Homo sapiens: one gene and its partners. The protein of the gene in region 3 purifies or fractionates together with the protein of the main gene of each other region. This does not show direct contact. Each region holds a gene or a part of one and is shown on either strand. Other genes may lie near its edges.

Evidence for each region.
Region 1: the proteins of MOG (region 3) and MMP15 purify together in Homo sapiens (affinity purification with mass spectrometry; one large-scale study listed by BioGRID and IntAct). This does not show direct contact.
Region 2: the proteins of MOG (region 3) and FAM241A purify together in Homo sapiens (affinity purification with mass spectrometry; one large-scale study listed by BioGRID and IntAct). This does not show direct contact.

The regions. Positions count from the first base shown.
Region 1 is NC_000016.10:58,024,312-58,028,553, forward strand, and holds the start of MMP15 (matrix metalloproteinase-15 preproprotein), read left to right. Parts: upstream 1-1,442; 5' UTR 1,443-2,039; coding exon 2,040-2,201; intron 2,202-4,242. UniProt on the Homo sapiens protein: Endopeptidase that degrades various components of the extracellular matrix. May activate progelatinase A.
Region 2 is NC_000004.12:112,151,871-112,155,592, forward strand, and holds part of FAM241A (uncharacterized protein FAM241A), read left to right. Parts: intron 1-3,722.
Region 3 is NC_000006.12:29,669,833-29,672,941, forward strand, and holds the end of MOG (myelin-oligodendrocyte glycoprotein isoform alpha1 precursor), read left to right. Parts: intron 1-341; coding exon of another isoform or gene 342-389; intron 390-448; coding exon 449-565; intron 566-868; coding exon 869-889; coding exon of another isoform or gene 890-1,047; exon of another isoform or gene 1,048-1,339; coding exon 1,340-1,353; 3' UTR 1,354-1,589; coding exon of another isoform or gene 1,590-1,618; 3' UTR 1,619-2,533; downstream 2,534-3,109. Other genes in the region: ZFP57 (zinc finger protein 57 homolog), read right to left, coding at 2,668-3,109.

The DNA of each region.
Region 1 (4,242 bases), on a different chromosome or scaffold from region 3:
TGCTGGGATTACAGGCTTGAGCCACTTTACCTAGCCCCAAACTTTTTAAAATTGGCTAATCGGGACTAAATATCATGAAAGAGTGCGACGTGGTCGGTTAAACAAGGACAACCCCGTTGTCCGTGTCTGAAGACCACTGCACATTTCCCAAAAGCAAATTTCGAAGTGGAGAATTTAGAAACCAACTTCCCAGATGAAGGATCCCACAGAGAAGTGAGTCCGTGGAAATGATAGAATCGCCCGGTTCCTTTCTCTAAACTCCGACTTCCTTTCCCCAAGGACATCCCAGGAGGGTTCAAACGCGCCCTCTCTAAGGCACTCTGCCAGGTCTCCTGATTTCCAGTTTCCGGGAGGTGAGGCCGGCTAGGGTGCCCCGAGGGCCTGCTCTAGAGAAAACCGCCCTCAGGTGAGGACGGCTTCCATTTCCGGGTCTGAAGATAAGGAACAGCTTATCTTCGGTCTCCGCCCTCCTGCCTGCAACCCTCACCCACTGACCACGCCGGCCAGTCCGCCGCGCCAGGGCTGCCCTTGGCCTGGTCCCCGGGTCTCGGTGGACCTTCGACCCGGGCCTCCCAGCTCTGGCCTCCTGCATCCACCCCGCCCCGACCTCAAGCTGCTTCCGGAATAGAATGAAATCCAGCTCGTTAAGCTTCGCGGGGAGGTGTGTCCACCCGCCCCGCGCCGACTCCGGCCGCACTGTCGCACTTCACTCGCACCAGCCAGTGGCCAAAGTGCTTGGGCACCTATTGCGCCAGGCCAGGAGCCGGAAGTCTTACCTCGCCCTCACCCCAACTCTTTGCCCCACGTTCCCGATAAGAACATGGAGGCTCGGAGAGATTAATTTGCCCACGTGCAAGCGGCAGCTAAGGGGCGGACGCGGAACTTGAACCGTGTCCCTCCTAAACCTGCCCCTTGTCCGCCGCAACGCGCCCTCGACGCGCACAAAACCCTCACTTTGCTACTGAGGAAAGTTATTCAATGGCCAGAGACACCCTGCGGCTTTTGAAAAGAGGTTTCAGGCTGACAAATATCCATATATACATATATATTTATATTTAAGCCTAAAACGACTCTTTGATCCCTCCCCTAAGACCTCCTTCCCGTCCGCCTAGGCCTCGGTATCCCCCACCAGGTATGAGAAGGAGGAGTCTTCATTCTTCCCAGGCGGGGAGACCACGCCTTCCCTGCCTCCTCCCTCCGCGGGGGGTCGCGTTGGAGGTCACCCCCGCCCCCTAGGCGCTGGGTTGGGAGTGACGCGGGGTGGGCTGGAGAGGTTTCCTGCCGTCTGGGAAGCGTAAACGGACCGCCCACCTGTCGGGCCTCGGCCGCCCGCACCTGCTTGTGAGAAGCCTGCGGCTGGGGCACCGCCCCCGGTCCCCGCCCGGGTCCGCGCATTGGGAGCACACTGGCCCTTTAAGAGCGCGGCGGCCGCGGCGCGCGGGGAGGAGGGCTGGGAGCGCCCGGAGCCGCGCTGAACTCGCCGGGGACGTCGGGCGCCCGCTCCTTGGCTGGCTCGCTTGCTCTCTCGCTCGCTCTCTCGGGTCGGCTCCCTGCGCCTCCTCCCGGGACTGCTTGGGGACCCGGGCCCGGTCGGGCGCGGCGGCGAGCAGAATCCCCGTGCAGGAGGCGCGCGCTCCGGGCAGCGCCCGGCCCCGGGCATGGACAGAGGGAGCTGGGCGCGCAGGGAGCGCCGCGGGACCGGGCGGCCGGAGCGCTGAGCCAGACAAAGGCTCCGGAGTTGCGCTTGCTCTCGGGAGCCGGGCCCCAGGCGCTGGGCGCCGAGGCTGCGGAACCTCGCCGGGGGCAGCTCCGGTCGGCCCCCTTTCCCGCCGGCTGGTTCCGAGCTCCCGGACCTGCCCTGCCCGCTTCTCCTCGGGCTTGGGAATTTGCCGAGGCGACCTAGGCGGCTCCGGCGGGGACCGGGAGCCCGAGGTCCGCGGCGCGCCTGCCGGGCCAGGAGCCAGGGAGCGTCGCAAGTTTCCAAGGCGCGTGCGAGGATCCGGCGTGCAGTGTTCCGAGCTGGGCTGGGCGCCGAGAGCATGGGCAGCGACCCGAGCGCGCCCGGACGGCCGGGCTGGACGGGCAGCCTCCTCGGCGACCGGGAGGAGGCGGCGCGGCCGCGACTGCTGCCGCTGCTCCTGGTGCTTCTGGGCTGCCTGGGCCTTGGCGTAGCGGCCGAAGACGCGGAGGTCCATGCCGAGGTAAGACCCCCGCCCTGCCCTTTGGCTGCGGGCTGGGGGCTTGGAGGGAGAGGCGCCACGTCCGCAGGCTGGGACTTGGAGGTGGAGGGAGCGGAGACGCGCCCCCTGTTCTGGGCCGTGGCGGGGAAGCAAGCGGACTTGGCAGTCTGCCCCTCCCCAGCTCGCCCTCTGCAGCGCACCTCTTCGCAAACCCTTGAGGGCGCAGGGCCTCGCTCTCCTCCCCGCTACTCCTACAGCCCTGTTCTGGGCACTGAGCCCCCACCCCGACCCCCTTACATTCAGCCTGTGTCCCGGGAGCCGCTTCCGCCGCCCCCAGCCCTTGCCTCCCCTCCTTCCTTCCCTCCAGGGCAGCCGATTCCTCGAGAGCCCGGCTGGCGCGCAGTGGCGCTCTTTGCGAGTGGGGAGGGGGCTGCTCTCGGGGACAGCCACAGGCGGAGCAAGAGCTGGGCGGCTGGGCAACTGCGCTCCTGCCCAGGTGGCCTCCCGTCTGGGTGATACCGAGCCGCGCACGGCGGGCCAGGATGGAGGCGGGGGGATGGGTGCAAACGGCTGAGGCAGCGGACTCGGGTTGCGGGGGCGCTTTGGCGACTTTCTGCGCTTTTGCGAGGAAGCCTAGGCACGCCCGGGCGGGGTCCTAAGGACGGACCCTGCCTCCCACAGCGCTTCCTCCCAACAGCGCCCCTACGTCGAAGCCCTGGATTCGAGAGGGTGGACCCCGCGCCTCTCTTCGCTAGGAGCCCGCTTGGCGTCCCTCCCGGGGCCCCGCTCTGGATGGGTCCCGCGGGTGACCAGGCGCGACATCCCGGCGTAGAGCCGAGTCCAGCCAGCGCCCCAGCTCCATGGTGTCTCCCGAGCGAGGACACCGAAGGCGCCAGCTTTCTTGCCCCAGAGCAAGAGCAGGGTCCACTCTTCCCCGACTTCTAAGACCTGCGCCCTGCCCCAGATAGGCGGGGAGAGGACTTGGGCGGGGAGTAGGGAGAAAGAACCACCCCGGAGCCGCTTCTGAACGGTGCTCAGGCCTTGGTGCCCTTGGGCTGCCCGGGCTGCGGGCCTGAGCGCCGTTTCTATTTGCAGCTCAGCTGGTGCTCCCTCCCTGGCCCACGGCGGCTTTCCCACCTCTCCGGGCTGCCTGGGAGATTTTTCCGATGGAAGCTTGCCCTTCCCCGCCCTACTTTAATAAAAGCATAGAGGAAGGGCAGGGAATTCCTCCTGGGCTCGAGTTACACCTCCCAGCCATTTCCCCACCTGCTCTGCCCTCCCTCCCTGGCCTGGCCAGGGAGAGCTGAAGGAGGAGCCAGGCCCTGGTGGGAGGCAGGATAGGAGCCCCGCCCCGACCCAGTCTGGCCACCCTCCCCCACCCCATTCACACAGGCAGGAGGAGCTTTAGGGGGCTCCTGTTGGTGAGGATTACCCCTCAGCCTGTGACCCAAGTACTGGGCGGAGAGTGCCATTTGGGCCCACCTGCCACTCTGGGCTGGAGTGCCAAAGAATTTCAAGTCACAGTCCCACCATTGAGTTTCTAATCTACTTAGGGATGGCGTCAATACATAGGAAGCAGTGATGGAATTCAATGGCCGTGCATTGCTAATGGCATCCTAGCTGGCCAGGAGCTCAGGGGTGCAGGGACCTGTAGTTGGAGGGGCTTCACTCTCTCTCTCTTCTGCTTTTCCAGTTCCATCTCACCCCTACCCCAACTCCCCAGCTCAGGGAGTGCCCACAGCTCGATGCCGCCAGGGAAGAAGCCATGGTTGCGTTATCACAAACCGTGCTCCTGATCTGGAGGTTGTGACTGTCCTGGAGCCCTACTCCTGGGGAAACACTTGGGTTGGACCTGGGCAGTGACTGGAAGAGACCCCGGAAGGTTTAAGGAGCCTTGAATGTTGGCAGCCATGCAGATAGAGGGCTAGAGACAGGTGGAGTGTCCCAGCTCCTACAGTTGGCTTTGGGTACAGGCTGCTTCTAGGGTCCCATCAGGTCTGGCCACATGTGGGCCCAAAGAGTCAAATGGCCTCAGCAGCCAGCCCATCTGCCGGGGGCTGTG
Region 2 (3,722 bases), on a different chromosome or scaffold from region 3:
GTTTGTTTCACAAATACAAAAAGCACATTACATGATGGAAAAACAGTCTGACAAATTTTCTGCCCTACTTTAGATGGTGTAGTTCAAAACTAAATATTAGTTTATACTCACTTCCTTTCACGTATTTTAAAAGCAGTTTGCAAGCAATATTGTAATAAGTGCTATGAGCTTAGTTGAATTCTGCCCTAACTTAATCTCATCTTGTTCCTAAGGACATCCAGTCACTAGAGTAACTCAGGGAATAATTTTGCATTTGATAGGCATCTTTTGTTCATTTTTTTAAATCATCCAGACTGGAACTTCTAAATCAGTGGTTCTCAACTGGGGGCCTTTTGTCCATAGGGGGCATTTGACAATGTCTGGACATTTTTTTATTGCTGAAACTAAGGAGGTGGTACTGACATCTAATAGGAAAAGGCCAGGAATGCTGGTAAACATCGTATAATGCCATAGTCCCCTACAGCGAAGTATTATCTGGCACAAAATTTCAATAGTGCCAAAGTTGAGAAACAATATTCAAAATATGTAAGGGTTACAGTCCTTTGAGTTGTCAAAAGTAATTACTCTGATAATAGATATTCCAATAGATAGGTTAAAATTGTTTATTTGCTTGAAACCTGTATTTTAAACAGAATTTCAAACTTTTCTCTGTGTCTCTTCTAGCAGCTCCTCGTATGCAACTTGCTGTATTTTGCTTTCTCACACATTCCTTTTCTGCCTTTCTTTCCTACCACCCATCTCCTTTCTGTCTCTGTTGAGTCTCGTTCTCTCATGTGTTTTTTCCCTCCCCACGCATCTCAACCACTTTCTCTTCTTCTGCATACATCTTCCCCTACCTCTTCCACTTCAGTGCAGAAGCTGAGCATTATGAAACAATGAAAAGGGGGTTGAAGTATGACAGATCTAATTTTGAATCCCGGTTTTACTCTTTATTAGCCCCCGTGATCCTGATTACTTAATCCGTCAGAGATTCAATTTCCTCATTTGTAATGGGTATGATGCTACCCACCTCTTAAAGTTTTTATGAGGATTCAGTCTCATTTTGTATGTAAAATGCCTAACACATGGAGGCACTCAATAAATATTTGCTCCTTATTTCTCCCTCACCTTTTCTATTTTTCTTCTTTTTCTCTGGTTTTCCTCCCCTTATTTCCCTCAACTAACACATCATAGAACTGTGTTTTTAGTACATGTAATTCTCAAATTTATAGAATATTTATTGAACAAAGTGTTAAGATTGTGAAACAATGTATCTAATGTTTAGAATAGACAATCTCTAAAGAAAAAATTAAACCTGTCAACCTAAATTATGTTGTTTTTTATGTAGATCTCTAGTTGGTTTCTTTTCCCCCTTGTTGCTCACTAATCCTTGAGAGGAAAAATACCCACCTCCTCTGTACAAACTATTCTCAGTTTCCTATTCAAAAGAAGTGATAAGGCAAGATTAAAAGGAAAAACTCAAAGTACCATGACATCAGTCTTGCTGTAACAGAAATATGTAGAAATTCTGTGTCTCTATTCATGTGTTCTTTAAGACTTAGCAACACTGTCTTCATTTTCTGTCTTTTCTGGAGTCATAATCTTATCTTCCAGTAACAGCCACCTATCTCCGAAAACCTTGTTCCTACTAGTTATGTTTTATTTCATTGTGTTTATGTGTGTTTGAGAGAATTAATAAGACATTTGAAATGTAGCTTCTTTTGAGCAGATAAACCGAGTTTCTAACCAACCTGATGCAGAAGATACTTTCTATCTTCTGATCTTTTTCCCCATACCCAGTGTTTCCCCCGGCACCGCCCCCAGCCATTTAACTTCATTGGCAGCTGAGTCTTATCTTGGCATAGGAAGAGGAAGTGATTGGCTTTATTTCTTGCTGTTTTCTTAGGGCAACAACTGCAGCTTATCAGAGTTCTAATCAAAAGGAAAGCATGGTACAAATGTTTTTAACTTTATGGAAAATAAAGGATAAAATTATCATTAATACTTAATATCTAAACATAATGTTAAGAAAGTTAAATTCCCATTGTGGTTTTTACAGTATTTATTTTCATGTAACTTTTTAAATATCTGTGTTTGAGAATTTCTTTTATTTCCTCTTCCAATTAATCCAAAATAATTTAATTTTTGTTTTGTATCCTCTTAATTAAATTTTACTTGAATGTCTGCAGATGGCCTACAGAGGTAGGGAATTTAAGTTTGATGTTGCATGATTGCAAATTCCATCAGTCTGACTGAATTGAGGATTTCTTATTCCATGAGTTTTAGAGGTAATAACAGCAGAAGCGAAATTTTCACTGCCACAAATTGAGAATTGAGAAGGAAAGTCATTTTTCAGGAGAGATATTTGATTTTGACTACTTTTTTCCCCTAAGTTTGATACTTTATTTTTTAAAATTTATTTCTTATTTTTTTATTTTTGAGACAGAGTCCTTTGTTGCCCAAGCAGGAGTGCAATGGTAGGATCTCAGCTCACTGCAACCTCCACTTCCCAGGTTCAAGCAATTCTTGTGCCTCAGGCTACCGAGTTCCTGGGACTACAGGTGCATACTACCATGCCTGGCTAATTTTTGTATTTTTAGTAGAGATGGAGTTTTGCCGTGTTGCCCAGGCTGGTTATGAACTTCTGGCCTCAAGCAATTTCCCTGCCTTGGCCTTCCGAAGTGCTGGGATTACAGGCATGAGCCACCGTGCCCAGCCTGGCTACTTTTAATGGATAAGTTTACCCATCTTGTAGTAGCATCTAGCATATTGTCCTGCATATGCAAGGTACTAAGTAATGTCACCAGAGATTTCATATTTTTTTTTAAAAAAGTAGATTCTTGAAAAAGTATAAAATGTAGAAATGTCTTAACCTGCAGTTTGAAATCAGAAAGAGGCTTGAGCAGGGTGTGGTGGGTCATGCCTGTAATCCCAGCACTTTGGGAGGCTGAGGTGGGCGGGTCACCTGAGGCCAGGAGTTCGAGACCAGCCTGGCCAACATGGCGAAACCCCGCCTCTCCAAAAAGATACAAAAATCAGCCGGGTATGGTGGGGAATACCTGTAATCCCAGCTACTCAGGAGGCTGAGGTAGAAGAATCGCTTGAACCCAGGAGGCAGAGGTTGCAGTGAGCCAAGATCGCAAACTGCACTCCAGCCTGGGCGACAGAGCAAAACTCCGTCTGCGCCCACCACCCTCCCCCGCCACAAAAAAAGAGGCTTGAGTTAGGCATATTCTTGAGTTCGTGGCCCACAGTTATATATCATTAGTTCATGAAAAGCCCTTCTCTTATTTAATTATTTTTCCATTGCATAACCATTTCTTTCTCTACAATAGGCAGCTGTTCCAATACGTCTGTTAGATATTACTGAAATTGAGTGTATCTTTTTGACTACCTGGTGGTTTCATTTGTGTGTCTGCAATTATGACTTATAATTTTAAAAATATTGAAGCCCGGTAGTTAAAATGAAAAATGAATGCAAATTTTGGTATTTTTCTGTTTATAATCATTTCAAAGACTAAGTTCTAGTTGATATTCTCATTGTTTTTATCCATCCCCTCAAAAAAATCTTTTTTCTTTTATTGGGTCTATGTAGTTTAGTGGGAGGTAAGTATAAAACAATGCTATAATTTTTCATTTACTGATAAGTGACAAACAAGTTATAATGATAAGTTATAAATTATATAATATAATATAATGCTATTATTAGATGAAGCCTTATATAGGTAGTACATTTTTACATT
Region 3 (3,109 bases):
GGATCTTGGCTCACTGCAACCTCCGCCTCCCAGGTTCAAGCGATTCTCCTGCCTCAGCCTCCTGAGTAGCTGGCATTACAGGCATGTGCCACCACGCCCACCTAATTTTTACATTTTTAGTAGAGATGGGGTTTCACCATGTTGGCCTGGCTGGTCTTGAACTCTTGGCCTCATGATCCACCCGTCTCGGACTCCCAGAGTGTTGGGATTACAGGCATGAGCCACCACACCTGGCAGTTGTTACATTTTTAATGAAAGAAAATGTTAAATCCAGTTATTGAAAATAAGGAGGCAGTACTTTTCTCATCCAAGTTCATGGACTTTCTGAATTTTGTCCCCAGAGTCCTTTGGTGTTCTAGGACCCCAGGTTAAGGAACCAAAAAAGACAGGTGGGTGGGGCATGAGGGGGAACACATGTTAACCCTGTTTGTTCTGGTGAACAATTCAGATCCCCACTTTCTGAGGGTGCCCTGCTGGAAGATAACCCTGTTTGTAATTGTGCCGGTTCTTGGACCCTTGGTTGCCTTGATCATCTGCTACAACTGGCTACATCGAAGACTAGCAGGTGCAGTGGCTGGGCAGCAGGCAAGACCACCAAATAGTGGGGGACCAAGTCAGCTCTGAATGGGAAGCCAAAAGAGAATAGAACCAGGACTCAAGATTAGGGGAGCTGGGATTTCCTTATTCCTCTGTCCCCATGCCCAACCCCAGGCTCTTCTGAGAAACTGTGAAGAGAACCACTTACTGGATCTGTGGGATCCCCCAGTGGAAAGGGCAGTGTGGGTCACTCCAAATGTCCATAGGGAGGATGTGGGGAAGGTGCTATTCATCTTCCACTAATCACATATTTGTTTCTTTTTGTTTTCAGGGCAATTCCTTGAAGAGCTACGTAAGTTCTCTTCTCTCTGTTATAAGCAGAGAATAAAAAGCCAGGAAAGGGAGACAGAAGCAACAAGAGGAAGAGGCGGGCTATTGAGGGATCACATTCCCAGAGGAAAGGAGGAGCTGGAGAGCCTGGGTGGAGGGAAGACTCCTCCTGGGAGGTAGAGGGCAAAGAAGCCAGCTGTTAGAGACACATTTACAGGTGGCAGAGAAGCTGGAGGCACTCCTATCTGCCACCTGATCCATTCCTCCTTCACTGCCCCTAAGCAGGAATCCAACCCTAGCTGGTCTCATTGCCCATTCCACAGCAACTGCCCAGTGCCTCACCTCTCAGATCAACCATTGAGGCAGGAATGGAGACAAGATGACCCCAAGGGCTTTTCTTCTCCCTAGTTCAATGGTTTTATGATACAAACTACTGACATACGTTTTTCAAGTTATTTTCTCCTTCTTCTAGGAAATCCCTTCTGAGTGATGTCACATCTTGGCAGGGGTGGAGGAGAGCCTGGTTGCCCAGGGATTTGTCCTTGGGGACATCTCATCCATCAAGTTGCACACTCACTGGCATCTTTGCTATGGGGACATTCCAATTTGCACTTTCAGGAACACTCTGAATTCCAAGTAGAATTGATTTCCCTTCTTCTGTCATCTACCTTTTCTCTTCATTTTCCCATTTTTATTACCCTTCTTTCCATTTCTCTCTCCAGTCTTCCACCTGGAAGCCCTCTCTGGCTAAGGACAGGCAGGTGCCCCTCTCTCCATCAGAGGACACCTGTACTGGAGAGCAACACAGGATGGTCTCTGCCATGAACTGGAGGCCAGGAATCTCCTCACTGAAAATTACAGTATGGTAACTTTGCAAATGGTGGTTGTTTCTTCCAAGACTCCAGCCCTGATTGCGCAAAACTGAAAGGCATGTGAAGGGAAGGAAGAGGAAGAGTGCAAAACATTGAAGAGAGAGCTGAGTGAGCTGAAGAGTGAGGATATGAGTAGCCCCAACCCAAACCTGGAGATGGGGAGAAACCTACAGAATACTAGCCAGAGCTCCTCCTTGTCTTGGCAGCCTACTAGGGACCTGGGGAAGCAAAAACGAAAGCTGGGCAACATGCCTGCTTTAGAATGTTTTCCTTCTACTTACACATCTTCCACAGGTCTCAGAATCTTTCCTTCCTCTCATCCTTTTCTCCTATCTTCATATCTATCAGAGTATCCACTGTTTATTCAACAACTACTACTTGATGGTCAGACACAAACAAACAAGCTAGGTGCTAATTAATAAAGATACGAGTTTTGGCCGGGTGCGGTGGCTCACGCCTGTAATCCCAGCACTTTGGGAGGCCGAGGCGGGCGAATCACGAGGTCAGGAGTTCAAGACCAGCCTGGCCAACATGGTGAAACCCCATCTCTACTAAAAATACAAACAATTAACTGAGCATAGTGGTGGGCACCTATAATACCAGCTACTCCGGAGGCTGAGGCAGGAGAATCGCTTGAACCCAGGAGGCAGAGGTTGCAGTGAGCTGAGATCGTGCCACTGCACTCTAGCCGGAGTGACAGAGTAAGACTCTGTCTCAAAAATAAATAAATAAATAAATAAATAAATAAATAAATAAATAAATAAAAAATAATAATACAAGTTTTCATAAGCACACTTCTAACCCCTTGTCTTTTATGTATTTCCTTCCTTATCCACGCACCTGTCTCCCTCTACTCCAGCCTCATTACCCCAGAGGTCAGTCCTCAGGAAAACTAAACACAAAGAAAGAGCTCAGTCAGAAAGGCCATTTATTTATGTTTCAAGATGCTCACTGCCTCCTTTGTTTTGTCTCCTTTGCAGGCCTTCTCTCTTAGGCCTCTTCTCCTGGGGGTATGGATCCTGGGGGGAGATTGATCACCTCCATGCTTCCATTCCTCCCCAGCCATAGTGGGGACATCATGAGAGAAGCCAAGCCACTGGCCCAGGATCACCCGGCATTTATGGTGGCTGCTCTGGCACAGGTCCTTGCCTTTATAGCCCCTCCAGTGATCCATAAGGCCCTCTTTCTCCCCAAAGGAGAGGTCACAGATAGGGCAAAGGTAGCTCTTCTGCTTCCAGTGGGTCTGCTGGTGTCTGACCAGCCTGGAAAATGAGCTGAAAGACTTGCTGCAATGGAAGCAGTAGTTGGGCGGCTCTGTGAGGTGGGCCTTCTGGTGTCTGGAGAGATAGGATTTCTTGCTAAAAGTCAAA